2 separate regions of the Homo sapiens genome follow, and region 2 is linked to region 1. The links come from fine-mapping of genetic effects on gene expression. A gene starts in region 1. The other region holds a variant in brackets. All regions are shown on one strand. Distances are from middle to middle.

Region 1 (4,389 bases):
TCCATCCCAGGGTGTAGCACACATAAATGGAGAAATAACAGATCGGTGACTCTTATTTTTTTTGTAATATTTATCTAGTAAAAGGCAGAAAAGAGTGTAAAAGATTCATTTGGTTAAGAATGGCAAATAAACTGCATGCTCGCCTGAAGGTCTGCCTTGACGCAACCTGACACCTAGAGCTGAATTTCCAGTCGCTGGAATATCGCGCTACTCCTACCACTGAAAATGTTCAAAAGCACCACAGTCTGGGTATGAGCTTAAATCCCCTCTTCAACACCGCATTTTAGTAGCATGTAACCGATTACACTAAGTCTAACCAAATCTCTCAGCTCTTTGCAACAAGGTTCTAGAAATCCCCCCTCCCCCCGCCCCAGCAAACATTTCGAAGCTGCACCACAAGTCAAGTCTGTCCCAAAAAGCTTAAAAGTCATCAAAGAAACGCAATGCCTAGACAGCAGAAGCCCACATCCCTTGGAGGTGGAAGCTGGAGGGGAAGGGTCTGAGGCAGAGATAAAAGCAAGAGAGGGATTCCCCAGGCTCTCCTGGGGACGGGAGGATGGTGTCTGCCCAGCTCTGCGCCTGCAATTTCCACGCCATACATATCACAGCCATGTCTGGGTCACGCCTGCCCAGAGCCCACCGGGCATGCACATATGTGACATGTCCGAAGCTGAGGGCAAGCCACCCAGGGCAGAGTATGCCCCCAGGCTCTGCGCCTGTCCCAGGGCAGTTGCAATGCAGCAAGCGTGTTACTGTTACGGAGGCAAGAAAGCCAGCGCCTTCCCACGCACGCACACAGGCTAGGTGGCCTCTTCTGCACAAGATGGGCCACCAACAAACTCACCTATGCTACATACCTGCTCCCCACCGCCCCCACCTCACTCGTAAAGTATGGGGAAAAGAAAGCAAAAGCCCTTTCCGACCTGGTCTTCTTCTGCGCCTCTTCTTGGAGCCGAAGAGTTTGACCCGGGAAAAGACATTTAACTTGTTTTTGTCGCAGCTGGTCTTGCCTTTGCTGGGGCTGCTGACACACTTGCAGGCGTTGGATTTCTCGCGCTCGCGGGCTTGCCTCTTCTGACGGATGAGCGAGCTGGCGATAGCCGCCGCCATGGCCACGACGCCCACCACCACCGCTTCTTTTGCTGCCCCTCTCTGGGTTCGCCTCCTCCTCCTTCTCCTCCGCTGCTTGTCCGCTGTCTCGCGACTTCGCCGCTTTGGTCTCCTTAGCCTGCGTTTGCCCGGGCTTCTCCGCACTCGGGCTTCAGCCAAGGAGGGGGCTCAGCATGCCGTCCGAGCTCCTCCGGCGGCGGTCCGGCTCCCGCGCGGGCTGCTGGCTGCCTGGGTCGGAGTCGACGCCACAGCCCCGGGCCCGGGATCGCGGGCGAGACTGGCACGCGGATGCTGAACTGCGCGACTGCGTGTGGTCGGCCCCTGCGCCCGGCGGACACCGTGCATGTCCAGCTGCTCCGGTCCGAATTTCGCCGGACCCCCTCGCCCTGTTGCCCTTCTGATGGGGGCCAGAGGAGGGAGGCGGGCGGAGGGAGTGAGCGCGGGCGGGAGAGAGGCCGGGAGCTCGGGCGGCCGGACGGAGGAGGGACGAGGCAGCGCGCGGGGGAGCGCGCCCTCGCCCTGGCCCCTCCGAGTCTTCGACTAGTCCTTGCAACTTCTTGGCGTGATAATCGGGAAAAGTTGGCCCGTGCCAGGTTTCCGACAGGGATCAAACAGGTAATGGCCTCGCATCTTCGCTGTTGCTGCTGCTCTGGGCGCGGCACAGTCGCAGCACAGGAATTCAGCCGCCGCAGGCACCCTCCGGAACAGCGCGACAGCCTCCTTGCAGCCCCCTCCCGCGACGGCCCCTCCCTCCCGGGGCTGAGCCCGTAGGCTCGGAGCCGCAGGCCGCCCCTCCCACCCCCACCCCCACCCCCACCCCCCCAAGTCCCCGGCCGCCCGTTCCGGCTAACACCTGTAGGGGCTTCCGCACTGCCCCAGTCGTCCAAATCCTTCTCCCCTCCTTTTCCCGAAAGGAGCTTCGGGAGGAAACAGTGATGGAGGAGGAACTGAGATGAGGTAGTTGGGCTGACGGAGCGGGGGTTTGCTCGGCATTGGGGGATGGAGTGGTGGGGGTGTTTCCTCAGTGTTTGAGCTGACCAGATTGTGCTCGGGCTGGAGCCCCTCAGAAGTTCGCCAGATCCCTGCCTCAGGCTTGGACGCACCAACAACCCGGAGAACCCTCACCCACCCGCGCAGAGGTATTTTGCTTGGCGACACTTGTAGCCATTCAGGGGAGGAGGCCAGAGTCCCCAGACGGGTTCAGCCCCAGCGGTAGCAGCAGAAGCAGACACTGCAGAGCTGCGCCCGCACACCACGCTGCCACCCAGTGGTTTTTGCTGACTTTTCATTTCAAGCCAATTTGTAGGGTCCAAAACCTGTTTTTCCTCTGCGCCCCCTCATCTGTCCGCTCAGATTTGGGATTCAAGCAGAGAGCTTGGGTCGTGTACCGTAAGCATTACGTATTTGGGAAATGCAGAGTCGAACCTCTCTATTTAAGCTGTGGCCCATCTCTAATCTCCTAACTTATTTTTTTCTGCTCCTCCAAAGTCAGGCAGCCTCCTTCCCTCCAATTCAGGAACCAGTCTGGCTTTTTGCTGGCCTCAGTCTATTAACAAGTTCTGTCCTCTCCCTGTGTTATATTTTATTCTGGAGGAAAAGAAAGAAGAGGTTTTGAGGCCAGAAATGCAGCAAAGAGAAATGGCCTGTCTACATCCCTACCTTCAAACAGACACAATTATTTGACTATTTTACTTGATTTCTGAGGCCAACTAGGAAGCAAAATAGAGCAGCTCTACTACCTGGCAGCCCTACACCGTCTTTACTGGACTCCTACATGGCACCCCCATCACCTCTTTTCAGAACTAATGTAGATGCAAAACCAGATGCTCAGCTTATCTTCAGACTCTAGCCCTTTTTTCCTTGCCTGACTACCCAACAAACAAGCTCGGACTCAGCAACACTGAAATGCTTTCAGGCTTCTTAGCCCATAAGAGCTGAATCACCGGACCCTTCTGTAGATTCCATTGCTTCACAGGGGAAGCTGTTGCTACCCCTCCTTCCACTTCTCTGCAATCTTGAAATGTCTCTTGCTCCATCAGAAGCACCACTGTGTGTCTGCAAGGCAGACTGGGGTAAAGGTTGCAGTGGGTTGAGACTGATAGTTACAGGAGAATGATGCCAAAGGGTCTGACATTTTCTACCTACTCTTTTGTGCTTTTGGCTTTCCCAAATGAAAAGGGAGGACAAGGTAGACGAGAGTTTTAACACCTCAAGTCTATTCAAGTATCCACTTCTTTAAAATTTGATTCATAGGGAAAAATAAATCCCTGAGGAATGACTGATTGATATTGATTCTGAAGAGTAGGAGGCTATTTCCTAGTTCAAAATGTTTGTGATTGTTGTTTAAATTCCAGATACCATGAAGGGAAATATCTTACATAAAGAGGGGTCAGGAGAAGCTTTGATCAAGCCCAAATATTTGGGGTGGGTGATGAACAGGTACAAGGTCTCTGCTTATTCTCTGCATGTTTTTACCTTCTGCCAAGCACCAACCCCAAGGGCCTTTTGTTCCTACTCTCATTTCTCTCTTGGGATCCTGACCCAGAGCAGGCATGCAAAAGCTAAAGAAGGATGAAGTTCTGATTCAGGAAGGGGATAGACCTTAGAAGAAGAGATGGTATTGAGAAAATCATAAGGGCTTTCCCACACCGTTTTTCCTCCACTTCTCCTCTCAGATAGCTCTCACTGTTTGCTTCTGCAAACACCATTCATAAGGTATTTTCAGGACGCCTGTAGAATTATTGGTGTGGACACTCTGTGGTACATATTAGAGGTAAACAGACTCAGAGAAGACTTCAGGAATATATAATAAGAATGGCGGGGGCATTTATTACAAATTTGCAAACACAAACTGTAAATACATCCTTTTGTTTCTAACTCCTGTCTACCATCCACATAAGCTCATGGAACCACTGGGCCAAGGCTGATAACCAGGTGATTCTACACGTGTTTGTAGATGTCCTTCTTGCTCTAATCCTTCTCTCCCTGATTAAATTGTATAATATTGAAAAATGAAGAGTATGGGGGAGGGGGAACGAGACTCTCCCTCTGTCACATGTTCCTGCCAACCCACAAAAGATATTTCTGTCTTTTTATATCCTGACCCCCTTGAATCTTTTGTTTTCATGAACAGGAAAATGCATGGCACATTATTAATGAGACTTGAGAAGGGGGCATCTCTCTGTGATCTGTCTGTCTACGGACCTCATTCATTCTCCTCTCTCTTCCACAAAGAGAACTCACAAAGGCCTGTGACCAGAGGGTAAATTCAATCTGGGG
Region 2 (4,389 bases), 390 kb before region 1:
TTTTTTATCCACTCGTTGATTGATGGGCATTTGGGTTGGCTCCATATTTTTGCAATTACAAATTGTGCTGCTATGAACATGCATGTGCAAGTATCTTTTTCATATAATGACTTCTTTTCCTCTGAGTGGATACCTAGTAGTGGGATTGCTGGATCAAATTGTAGATCTACTTTAGTGCTTTAAGGAATCTCCACACTGTTTTCTATAGTGGTCGTACTAGTTTACATTCCCACTGACAGTCTAAAAGTGCTCACTTTTCACTGCATCCACATCAACATCTATTATTTTTTAATTTTTTGATGATGGCCATTCTTGCAGGAATAAGGGGATATAACATTATGGTTTTGATTTGAATTTCCCTGATAATTAGTGATGTTGAGCATTTTTCCACATGCTTGTTGGCCATTTGTATATCTTCTTTTGAGAACTGTCTATTCATGTCCTTAGCCCACTTTTCGATTGGATTGTTTGCTTTTTGTTTTTTTTTTCTTGCTGATTTGTTTGAGTTCTTTGTAGATTCTGGATATTAGTCCTCTGTCAGATGTATAGATTTTGAAGATTTTCTTCTACTCTGCGGGTTGTCTGTTAACTCTGCTGATTATTATTTTTTATTTTTACTGTGCAGAAGTTTTTTTTAGTTTAATTAAGTCCCATCTATTTATCTTTGCTTTTGTTGCATTTGCTTTTGGGTTCTTGGTAATGAAGTTTTTGCCTAAGCCAATGTCTAGAAGGGTTTTTCTGATGTTATCTTCTAGAATTTTTATGGTTTCAGGTCTTAGATTTAAGTCTTTGATCCATCCTGAGTTGATTTTTGGATATGGTGAGAGATGAGGATCCAGTTTCATTCTTCTACATGTGGCTTGCCAAGTATCCCAGCATCATTAGTTGAATAGACTGTCCTTTTCCCACTTTATGTTTTTGTTTGCTTTATCAAAGATCAGTTGGCTGTTAAGTATTTGGCTTTATTTCTGTGTTCACTATTCTGTTTCATTGGTCCATATGCCTATTTTTAAACCAGTACCATGCTGTTTTGGTAACTATGGCCTAATCATATAATTTGAAGTTGAGTAATATGATGCCTCCAGGTTTGTTCTTTTTGCTTACTCTTGCTTTGGCTATGAGGGCTCTTTTTGGTTCCATATGAATTTTAGGATTGTTTTTTCTAGTTCTGCGGAGAATGATGGTGGTATTTTGATGGGAATTGCTTTGAATTTGTAAATTGCTTTTGGCAGTATGGACATTTTTACAATATTGATTCTACCCATCCATGAGCATGGGATGCACTTCCACTTGTTTGTGTCATCTATGATTTCTTTCAGCAGTGTTTTGTAGTTTTCCTTGTAGAAGTCTTTCACCTCCTTGGTTAGGTATTTTCCTGAGGGTTTTTGTTTTGTTTTGTTTTGTTTTGTTTTTGCAGCTATTGTGAAAGGGCTTGAGTTCTTGATTTGATTCTCAGCTTGGTCACTGTTGGTGTATTGCAGAGCTAGTGATTTCTGTACATTAATTTTCTATCCTGAAACTTTGCTGAATTCTTTTACCAGTTCTAGGAGATTTTTAGATGAGTCTTTAGGGTTTTCTAAGTATATGATCATGTCATCAGCAAACAGCAACAGTCTGACTTCCTCTTTACTGATTTGGATGCCCTTTGATTTCTTTCTCTTCTCTGATTGCTCTGGCTAGGACTTCCAGCCCTATGTTGAATAGAAGTGGTAAAAGTGAGCATCCTGTCTTGTTCCAGTTCTCAGGGGGAATGCTTTCAACTTTTCCCTCTTCAGTATAATGTTGGCTGTGGGTTTGTCATAGATGGCTTTAATTACCTTAAGGTATGTCCCTTCTATGCCAATTTTGCTGAGGATTTTAATCAAAAGGGGATGCTGGATTTTGTCAAATGCTTTTTCTGCATCTATTTAGATGACCATGTGATTTTTGTTTTTAATTCTGTTAATGCGCTGTATCACATTTATTGACTTACATATGTTAAAACATCCCTGCATCCCTGGTATGAAACTCACTTGAGCATGGTGGGTTATCTTTTTGATATGCTGTTGGAATTGGTTTGCTAGTATTTTGTTGAGGATTTTCACATCTATGTTCATCAGGGATATTAGTCTGTAGTTTTCTTTTTTTGTTATGTCCTTCTCTGGTTTTGGTATTAGGGTGATACTGGCTTCATAGAATGATTTAGGGAGGATTCCTTCTTTCCCTATTTTTTGAAATAGTGTCAATAGGATTGGTACCAAATCTTCTTTGAATGTTTGTTAGAATTCAGCTGTGAATCTGTCTGGTCCAGGATTTTTTTTTTGTTGGGAATTTTTTTTATTACCATTTCAATCTCACTGCTTGTCATTGGTCTGTTCAGATATTCTATATCTTCATGGTTTAATCTAGGAGGATTGTATATTTCCAGGAATTTGTCCATCTCCTCTAGGTTTTCCAGTTTATGCACATATAGGTGTTCATAGTAGCCTTGAATAATCTTTTTTTAAAATTTATTTGGTGTCAATTGTAATATATCTCATTTTGTTTGCAGTTGAGCTTATTTGGATCTTCTCTCTTCTTG[G/A]TTAATCCTGCTAATGGTCTACAAATTTTATTTATATTTTCAAAGAACAAGCTTTTTGTTTCACTTATTTTTTGTATTTTTTTTTGTTTCATTTTGTTTCATTTAGTTCTGCTCTGATCTTTGTTATTTCTTTTCTTCTGCTGGGTTTGGGTTTGGATTTTTCTTGTTTCTCCAGTTCCATGAGGTGTGACCTTAGATTGTCTATTTGTGCTGTTTCCAACTTTTTGATGTAGTCATTTAGTGCTATGAACTTTCCTCTTAGCACTGCTTTTGCTGTATCCCAGATGTTTTAATAGGTTGTGTCACTATTATCATTTAGTTCAAACAATTTTTAAATTTCCATCTTGATTTCATTTTTGACCCAACAGTCATTCAGGAGCAGGTCATTTAATTTTCATGTATTTGCTGGCTTTTGAAGGTTCCTTTTGGAGTTGATTTCCAATTATATTTCACTGTGGTCTTAGAGAGTACTTGATGTAATTTCGATTTTCTTAAATTACTGAGACTTATTTTGTGGCCTCTCATATGGTCTATCTTAGAGAATGTTCCATGTGCTGATGACTAGAATATATATTCTGCAGTTGTTGGGTAGAATGTTCTATAAATATCTGTTAAGTCCATTTGTTGTAGGGTGTAGTTTAAGTCCATTGTTTCTTTGTTGACTTTCTGCCTTGATGACCTATCTAGTGCTGTCAGTGGAGTATTAAAATCCCCCACTATTATTGTGTTGCCATCTATCTCATTTCTTAAGTCTAGTAGTAATTATTTTATAAATTTGGGAGCTCCAGTGTTAGGTGCATATATATTTAGAATTGTGATCTATTCCTGTTGGACTAGTCTTTTTATCATTATATGATGTCCTTCTTTGCCTTCTTAAACTGCTGTTGCTTTAAAGTTTGTTTTGTCTGATGTAAGAACAGCTACTCTTGCTCGCTTTTGGTGTCCATTTGTATGGAATATCTTTTTCCATCCCTTTACTTTAAGTTTATGTGAGTCTTTATGTGTTAGGTGAATCTCTTGAAGACAGCAGAAACTTGTTTGGTGAATTCTTATCCATTCTGCCATTCTGTAACTTTTATTTTTTTATTTTTTTATTTTTTTGAGACGGAGTCTCGCTCTTTTGCCCAGGCTGGACTGCAGTGGCGCTATCTTGGCTCACTGCAAGCTCCGCCTCCCGGGTTCATGCCATTCTCCTGCCTCAACCTCCCGAGTAGCTGGGACTACAGGCGCCCGCTACCACTAATTTTTTTTTGTATTTTTAGTAGAGACGGGGTTTCACCGTATTAGCCAGGATGGTCTCGACCTCCTGACCTCGTGATCCACCCGCCTCGGCCTCCCAAAGTGCCAGAATTACAGGTGTGAGCCACCGCGCCCGGCCCATTCTGTAACTTTTAAGTGGAGCGTTGAGGCCATTTACATTCAATGTCAGTATTGAGATATGAGATGCTATTCTATTCATCATGCTATTTGTTGCCTGAATACCTTGTGCTTTTTTCATTCTATTATTGTCGTGTAAGTCCTGTGACAATTATCCTTTAAGGAGGTTCTATTTTGGTGTATTTAGAGGATTTGTTTCAATGTTTACAGCTTCTTTTAGCAATTCTCATAGGGTTGGCTTGGTAGTGGCAATTTCAGCATTCGTTTGTCTGGAAAAGACTGTATCTTTTCTTCATTTATGAAGCTTAGTTTTGCTAAGTACAAAATTCTTGGCTGATAATTACTTTGTTTAGGGAGGCTAAAAATAGGACCCCAATCCCTTCTAGCTTGTAGGGTTTCTGCTGATAAATCTGCTGTTAATCTGGCAGATGTTTCTTTATAGGTTACCTGAT

Which allele goes with the higher level. Alleles are on the strand shown, and positions count from the first base shown. SD is a standard deviation of normalised expression in the study named.
For the expression in sun-exposed skin of the gene that starts at base 2,214 in region 1, A is the low allele of the variant in region 2 and G is the other (moderate effect, 0.45 SD a copy in GTEx).

Evidence for each region. PIP is the estimated chance that this variant, and not a neighbour inherited with it, causes the effect.
Region 2: its variant is the best candidate, but not a certain one, in a credible set for the expression of FGF13-AS1 in sun-exposed skin (GTEx, PIP 0.52).

What each region holds. Positions count from the first base shown.
Region 1 is chrX:138,709,894-138,714,282 of GRCh38, forward strand. It overlaps FGF13-AS1 (FGF13 antisense RNA 1), which reads left to right and starts at 2,214. Exons shown (of 3, transcript NR_038405.1): 1 at 2,214-2,249. FGF13 (fibroblast growth factor 13) reads right to left here and starts at 1,824. Exons shown (of 5, transcript NM_004114.5): 1 at 924-1,824. The coding sequence starts at 1,110.
Region 2 is chrX:138,316,769-138,321,157 of GRCh38, forward strand. No RefSeq gene overlaps it. Among named protein-coding and RNA genes, the nearest start is that of MIR504, 350 kb to the right of the region's middle. The variant G/A (reference allele first, on the strand shown) is at 2,561.